Homo sapiens: one gene and its partner. The protein of the gene in region 1 purifies or fractionates together with the protein of each later gene. This does not show direct contact. Each region holds a gene or a part of one and is shown in the gene's direction. Other genes may lie near its edges.

Region 1 (4,283 bases):
CAGGTGCAGTGGCCCATGCCTGTAATTCCAGCACTTTGGGAGGCCAAGGAGGGAGGACCACTTGAACCCAGGAGTTTGAGACTAGCCTGGGCAACATAGTAAGACCTGTCTCTCCCAAAAAAATTTTTTTAAATATTCGGGCATGGTGGTGAATACCTGGGCAGTCCCAGCTACTCAGGAGGCTGAGGTGGGAGGATTGCTTGAGCTCAGGAGCTTGAGGCTGCAATGAGCTGTGATCGCACCACTGCACCCTAGCCTGGGCTACAGAGCGAGATCCTGTCTCAAAAAAATAAAAACATAAAACAAAATTAATTTGAAAATAGCCCACCACCATGCTACGCTTTCCACATGGTTCCATCCAGAAGAGAAGTCTCCTCAATCACATGGCAACCCTGCTAATTCCCATCAATTATTCTCACAGTGAAAGTTATCAATTCCAGAAGAGAAAAATCAGCAACCTCCTCTGTAAAAGCTTTACAGAGACTTTTAGAGCCGAGTAAACAAGAGGGAGCAAAAGTTGAAACACGATGAAAATGCAACTAAAGCAATGCAGGACCTAGGCTGACTCTGGGGGTGACATCGAGGTTCCACATCCCAAAGGCAAGTCTAAATGTTGGGGTCTTCATGGACAGCTCCCAGACCTCTGATGACCCTCATGGTGCCGTTGTCAAAGGTAACATCCCAAATTATTGTAGATCTGTCTTCAGCAGGGATTTTTTTTTTTTTTTTTGAGACAGAGTCTCACTCTGTTGCCCAGGCTGGAGTGCAGTGGTGCGATCTCAGCTCACTGCAACTTCCACCTCCTGGGTTTAAGCGATTCTCCTGACTCAGCCTCCTGAGTAGCTTGGATTACAGGCACCCACCACCACACCCAGCTAGGGAATTTTTTTTTTAATGACATTGGGTAGCATCCCCCTTTGAGTCTTATAAATGATCTCCCTCAAACTTCTGCAGCAAGTGACTTCTTGGGCAAGTCATTTTCCCTGTTGGGCACATATGTAAGAGAGGGATTTGGCTTATAGATTGACATGTGTTCATTATCGTTTATTTCCACAAACCTTCACTGAGAGCATGCTTCGTGCCTTGGGGGCTCAAAAATGAAAGACACGTTCCCTACTCTCAGGAATTTCACAGGCTGGTGCGGGGAGACACACAGATAAGTAGACCATTCAAAAGTAGGTTTATGCTAGAGTGAGAGGGGCTGTGAAGAAGGGCTGAGCCCTAATGAGAGATCGGGGAAAGCTAGGGAAGATGTCCCAGTGTGAATCTTCCCTCTCCATTGCTCCAAACACCTCCTCAAAACCTGTGACTTGTAACCCTCTGCATGCCCTCCCAGTGCCTGGATCAAATGCTCAGCTTATGTGCCACACACTAGACTGATGTTATGCATGGATAAGCTCTTAGATATCCGGCTGGTTCTGTGCCCATCCCTCTGCCCCCACTGCAGAGAGGCCAATAAAACTCTTGTTCAGACTCACACTGCACACAGTATTCTGAACTCCTGGATCTACCACCTCCTGCTTCCCAAGGACCATGAAACTCCTGCTGCTGGCTCTTCCTATGCTTGTGCTCCTACCCCAAGTGATCCCAGGTAATCAGAGGTCAGGGAAGATACAAAAATAGAGGTATAGTGGGTTCTGGCTCATGAAAATTCCAATGTGTCACGGTACTCCCCAACATGGGCAGCTCCACAGTTCCCACACTGGGACTATGCTCCTGGCTGGGGTAAAACCTGGGAGTAGAGCAAGTTATCCTCAATAGACAGGGGCAGTCCCACCATCCAGAGTTGTCCTTGGTTCTATATTCCAAGTTGCCGCCTAAGAAACTAGGGGAAAGCTCGGCTCACATCTGTTCTCTTTCCAGATTGTGCCAGCTTTTGAAAATGATTCCTGCAGCCCACTTTGCTATGTTTTCTTGGCCCTAAAAGTCCTGCTATAGCTATAATGAGGTTCTTTTTGTTTTCTAATATTCTAGAATTTGGTGAACAAGTCAGAAAACACTGGTAGAGCTGTTACACGGAAGACAGAACTGGCTTTTCTTCTTCCTTCTACAGTGAAAATCTAAGCTTTTCATAATCACTGCTTTCTTAAGTATATCTAAAGGCATGACCAGAACTTTGAAATCACTGGTGAAGAGAGCCTGTTTCTCCTTTATGTTTTTCAAGGTGCATTTCAATGTATGATCGAACTTACATAAAAATGAATCTAAATATTTCTGTTTTATAACGAAGTAAGCACACTCCCTGCATGGCTATGCAGCACTCTTGTGTTTTTTTTTTTTTTTTTTTTTGAAGATGGAATCTCAATCTGTCACCCAGGCTGGAGTGCAGTGGCGCAATCTCAGCTCACTGCAACCTCTGCCTCCTGGGTTCAAGCAATTCTCCTGCCTCAGCCTCCCAAGCAGCTGGGATTACAGGCATGCACCATCATGTCCGACTAATTTTTGTATTTTTAGTAGAGATGGGGTTTCACCATGTTGGCAAGGCTGGTCTCAAACTCTTGACCTCGGGTGATCCATCCGCCTCGGTCTCCCAAAGTGCTGGGATTACAGGCATGAGCCACCGCACCCGGCCCTATGCAGCACTCTTCTTTCACTTATTATTTTGTGGCCATCTTTCCATGTCACCATCTAAAGATCTGCCTTATTGTTTGTAAAGTTGTATAGTTCTGCTGTAGGATAAGCCATATAAAGTCATATATAGCCATTTGAGACATTTCTTAATTTTCGAACAAGACATCAATGAATATGCTTGTACAAACATTAATATATTTACATATATGGATATGGGCTTAAATAGGATAGATTCCTAGAGGGCAAATAACCAAGTTAAATGTAAGTCTGGTGGGGGTGGGCAAGAAAATTAAAAATATATATTTGTTCCATTAATTCCTCTATTCCTCTGCCCTCATTGCAGAGAGGCCAATAACTCTTGTTCAGACTCCCACTGCACACAGCGTTCTGAACGCCTGGGTCTACCCTGGCGTTCAGGGTAGGGAAACAGGGAAACCTCTCCTGTTTCCCAGGGACCATGAAACTCCTGCTGCTGGCTCTTCCTATGCTTGTGTTCCTACCCCAAGGGATTCTGGGTAACCAGAAGTCAGTAATCAGAAGTTGTGTATCTTAAAGGACACTGCCAGCAGAAATTGCCAACTCTGGGGGTTTTTAGTAATTCTTCAGTTACAATTCCAGACACAAACAGGAATAATTCTGTGTGATCACTTTGAAAGCAATTGTGTCTGCTTTGAGTGCTAGTGGAGATATTGAGACTAGGAAAGAGACAGATGTGAAAGATTTTGTACATGAAATCCACAAGTTATAAAAACTCAGCATATGGGAAGTGAAGGAAATATTACATGATCTGGGGTTTCAAGTCTGAGTGTTAAGAGTGATAAATTGGAGCCATCCTCTTGGAGCAAAGAGTTAAGATAATGAAAGAAGCATAAAGTCTTGATGCTTTATCTTAAAAAGCCCCTACATTTGGGGAAGAAGAATAGAAATCAGTGACATTTATAGGAACAGAGATATCTCCCTACCCTCTCACCGAAAATACACAAGGGTTTTTCTATCACCATAATCCTTCAAACACCCAGCTGATGAGTATAAAATAACCTCTTACTGTTGTGGTTGCTTTTTTGTATTTGTTTCTGTTTTGAAACAGAGTCTCGCTCTGTTGCCCAGGCTGGTGTGCAATGGCGCGATCTCAGCTTGCTGCAACCTCTGCCTCGGGGGTTCAAGCGATTCCCCTGCCTCAGCCTCCCGAGTAGCTGGAATTACAGGCACGCACAACCAAGCCTGGCTACTTTTTGTATTTTTAGTAGAGATGGGGTTTCAGCACATTGGCCAGGCTAGTTTCAAACTCCGGACCTCAAGTGATCCACTCGCCTCAGCCTCCCTCGTGCTGTTGTTTTAATCTGCATTTCTCTCATCATCCTGTGATCAAAAGTTCTGAATGGCTTTCTTTCAAAGACCTGCAAGATTCTATGTGATCTCAACTCCCATTATATTTTCTCCAGTTACTCTCCACTTAACTTACTCTATACTCACCATAACTACCTTATTGTTTTTCAGAACCTTTGAGACAGGTCCTGCCTCTAAGCCTTTGCACTTGCTGCTTCCTCTGCCTGATATATACTCTGCCCCCAGTTAGTCTCGTAGCTCGCCCTCTCTCTTCCTTCTCAAACCTCAAGGGAAGTCTTTCACTATTTCCCTTCTAATCACACACTTCCTAAACCCCTTCCCTGCTTCGTTTCTCTCCATAATGCTTATCTTTTTTTTGTATTTTC
Region 2 (3,500 bases), on another chromosome or scaffold:
GGCTTCTCTCTGATCACAGATTAAGTCCACTTCGCCCAGGAGCCCTTCCTCCTCCTCCTGTCCCCATGCCAGCTGCCTGGATTAGTCCCTGCACGGTACTGACACTGTCGTCCCTGCGGTCACTTGTCTAATCGGTCGCCCGTAAATCCCGAGAGGACAGAGCTGATTTTCTTTCTGTCTTCAGCCCTAGCGTCAGGCCTGGCCCAGAGCCCCCACTACAGGCTTTTTTGTTGTTTTTTTGAGACAGGGTCTTGCTCTGTCACCCAGGCTGCTGTAGTGCAGTAGTGTGATCATGGCTCACTGCAGCCTCCATCTCCCAGGCTCAAGCCATCTTTAATTTTTGGTAGAGATGAGGTCTTGCTATATTGCCCAGGCTGGTCTAGAACTCCTGAGCTCAAGCTTCCTGCCTGCCTTGGCCTCCAAAAGTGTGGGGATTACAGGCATGAGCCACCGTGCCCAGCCCACCCCCCCTCTAAACACACGGAGCCTCCTCCAGACGTGCGGAGCCTCCTCCAAACATACCGAGGCCTGGGGACATTTCTGTTGACCCAGAACTGAGGTAGTGGCCAGACTGCAATTTGAATTCAGGTCTTTCTGCTGCAAAGTATATGCTTTTTTTTAAAAAAAATTATTATTATTAGGGTTTTTTTTTGTTTGTTTTTTGTTTTTTTAGAATGAGTCTCGCTCTGTCACCCAGGTTGGAGTGCATGGTGCTGTCATGGCTCACTGCAGCCTCAACCTCCCAGGCTCAAGCGATCCTCCTGCCTCAGCCTTCTAAGTAGCTGAGAGCACAAGTGTGTGCCACCGTGCCTGGCTAATTTGTTTTTTTAAACTGCTCCATTGAGATATGATTTGCATAACATACAGTTCACCCATTTAAACCACACACTTCAGGCTGGGTGGCGGCTCACACCTGTCATCCCAGCACTTTGGGAGGCCGAGGTGGGCGGATGACTTGAGGTCAGGAGTTCGAGACCAGCCTGACCAACATCCAGAAACCCTGTCTCTACTAAAAATACAAAATTATCCGGGCGTGGTGGCGCATGCCTGTAATTTCAACTACTCGGGAGACTGAGGCAGGAGAATCACTTGAACCCGGGAGGCGGAGGTGGCGGTGAGCCGAGATCACACCATTGCACTCCAGCCTGGGCAACAGCAGCGAAACTCTGTCTCAAACAAACAAACAAAAAAAAACCCACACACTTCAGTGGTTTTTAATAAATTTGCAGCATTGCTCAGCTGTTACCATTCTTTCATTTTAGAGCATTTTCATAACCCCAGAGAGAAATTTTATACCCTTAAGTGGTCACGCTCCATCTCCCCTGTCCCCAGCCCTGGCACCCACGCGTCCCCTCCTGTCTCTGTGGATGGGCCTGTCCTGGATATTTCGTAGAAATGGCACCACATGGCCGGGTGCAGTGGCTCATGCCTGTAATCCCTGCACATTGGGAGGCCGAGGCAGATGGATCATGAGGTCAGGAGTTCAAGACCAGCCTGGCCAACATAGTGAAACCCCATCTCTACTAAAAATACAAAAATTACCTGGGCGTGGTGGTGGGTACCTGTAATCCCAGCTACTCGGGAGGCCGAGGCAGGAGAATCGCTTGAACCCAGGAGTTGAAGGTTGCAGTGAGCCGAGACTGCACCACTGCACTCCAGCTTGGGCAACAGAGTGACACTTCGTCTCAAAAAAAAACAAATGGCATCACACACTGTGTGACTTTTGTGTCTGGCTTCTTTCTCTGCATGTGACATCATCGGGCTGCATCCACACCGCAGCCTGTTCCAGAGCCTCATTCCTTTTCATGGCTGAGTCGTGTTCCACTGGGCAGAGGCCACATCTTGTCAGTCCATTCACTCGTGGATGGACCTTTTGTCAATTGTGAATCGCGCTGCTGTGAGTGCACGTGTGCAGATTCCTGTGTGGATGTGTGTTCATGTCTCCTGGCTGGATCCTGGCACTGGAGTCTTGGGGGTCATGGGATGACTCCATTTTAAAGCTTTTTTTTTTTTCTTTTTTTTTCTTTTTTGAGATGGAGCCTCACTCTGTCGCCCAGGCTGGAGTGCAGTGGTACCATTTCAACTCGCTGCAACCTCCACCTCCCGGGTTCAAGCTATTCCCCTACCTCAGCCTCCCAAGTAGTTGGAATTACAGGCACGCGCCACCACGCCTGGCTAATTTTTGTATTTTTAGTAGAGATGGGGTTTCACCTTGTTGGCCAGGCTGGTCTCGGACTCCTGACCTCAAGTGATCTGCCTGCCTCGGCCTCCCAAAGGGCTGGGATTACAGGCTTGGCCACCACACCTGGCCTAAAGCTTATGCTTTTCTAGCCACTGACACTTCCTCTACTCAACCTAAAGCACAGATGTGCTCAGGAAATTGTAAGTAGTTTATGCATTTAAATGTGACCATCGGCAGCTGCAGCTCTCTCTGGAATGGAATTCCGTCAGCCTCTGTTTCGTCGTACCCAGCTCTGTTGGGTCCTCCTTGGCTTGGAGGGCTTTGAGTTGAATCCTTATTTTTCTTCGGTCTGTAAGATCTCCAAGGACACAGGCAACAGCACCTCCTTTCTCCATCCCAGGGCCCAGCCTGGAGGGGACGGTGGCGTGTGCCTCTAGTCCCAGCTACTTGGGAGGCTGAGGCAGGAGAGAGTTCACGGGGGGATTCAGCAGACAGGCCTGGGAGAGGGGTCCGGGCAACACCTGCCAGTTGTACTGGGGCCTGTTCTCACACCTGTCTCCCTGGTCTCCCCTGTTTTAGTTCAGAGGAATATCCTTGACTTCCCCCAGCATGTTTCCCCCTCCAAGGACATCCGGACAGCCAGCACAGAGGCCGACAAGAAGCTCTCTGAGTTCGACGTGGAGATGAGCATGAGGGAGGACGTGTACCAGAGGATCGTGTGGCTCCAGGTGAGGGGGCCCTGCGGGGAGTGCAAATAGCCTCCCAAGTAACTAGGATTACAGGCGCCCGCCACCACACCCGGCTAATTTTTGTATTTTTAGTAGAGACGGGGTTTCAACGTGTTGGTCAGGCTAGTCTCGAACTCCTGACCTCAAGTGATCCGCCCACCTCGGCCTCCCACAGTGCTGGGATGACAGGTGTGAGCCACTGTGCCCGGCCCATTTTTTGTATTTTTAGTAGGCACAGGGTTTTGCCATGTTGGTCAGGCTGTTCTCAAACTCCTGACCTCAGGTGATCCGCCCGCCTTGGCCTCCCAAAGTGCTGGGATCACAGGCCTGAGCCACCACGCCCGGCCACACATGTGCACTTTCATTTCCTTTCCTGGCCATCCTAGTGTGACCCAAACACCCCATCCCCACATGGCGTGAGCTGGCAGGGCCTGGCGGCATGGCTGCGTGGGCTCCTGCTCCCCCGGATGCTCCTCGCAGTATGCAGTGGGGCCTTTGCTGTTGATGTCACATGATCAGGAGAGACCCAGAGACCCTCCTGCTGCTGTTCATCCTCTTAGGCGAGGACCCCTGGGAATGTGCTGATGTGT

The links. The genes of interacting proteins can lie anywhere in the genome.
Region 2: the proteins of DEFB118 (region 1) and THOP1 purify together in Homo sapiens (affinity purification with mass spectrometry; one large-scale study listed by BioGRID and IntAct). This does not show direct contact.

What each region holds. Positions count from the first base shown.
Region 1 is NC_000020.11:31,367,118-31,371,400, forward strand, and holds the start of DEFB118 (defensin beta 118 precursor), read left to right. Parts: upstream 1-1,483; 5' UTR 1,484-1,533; coding exon 1,534-1,591; intron 1,592-4,283. UniProt on the Homo sapiens protein: Host defense peptide that exhibits antimicrobial activity against both Gram-negative bacteria, such as E.coli and S.typhimurium, and Gram-positive bacteria, such as S.aureus and B.subtilis. Inhibits cell adhesion of E.coli on intestinal epithelial enterocytes.
Region 2 is NC_000019.10:2,792,003-2,795,502, forward strand, and holds part of THOP1 (thimet oligopeptidase), read left to right. Parts: intron 1-2,761; coding exon 2,762-2,910; intron 2,911-3,500. UniProt on the Homo sapiens protein: Involved in the metabolism of neuropeptides under 20 amino acid residues long. Involved in cytoplasmic peptide degradation. Able to degrade the amyloid-beta precursor protein and generate amyloidogenic fragments.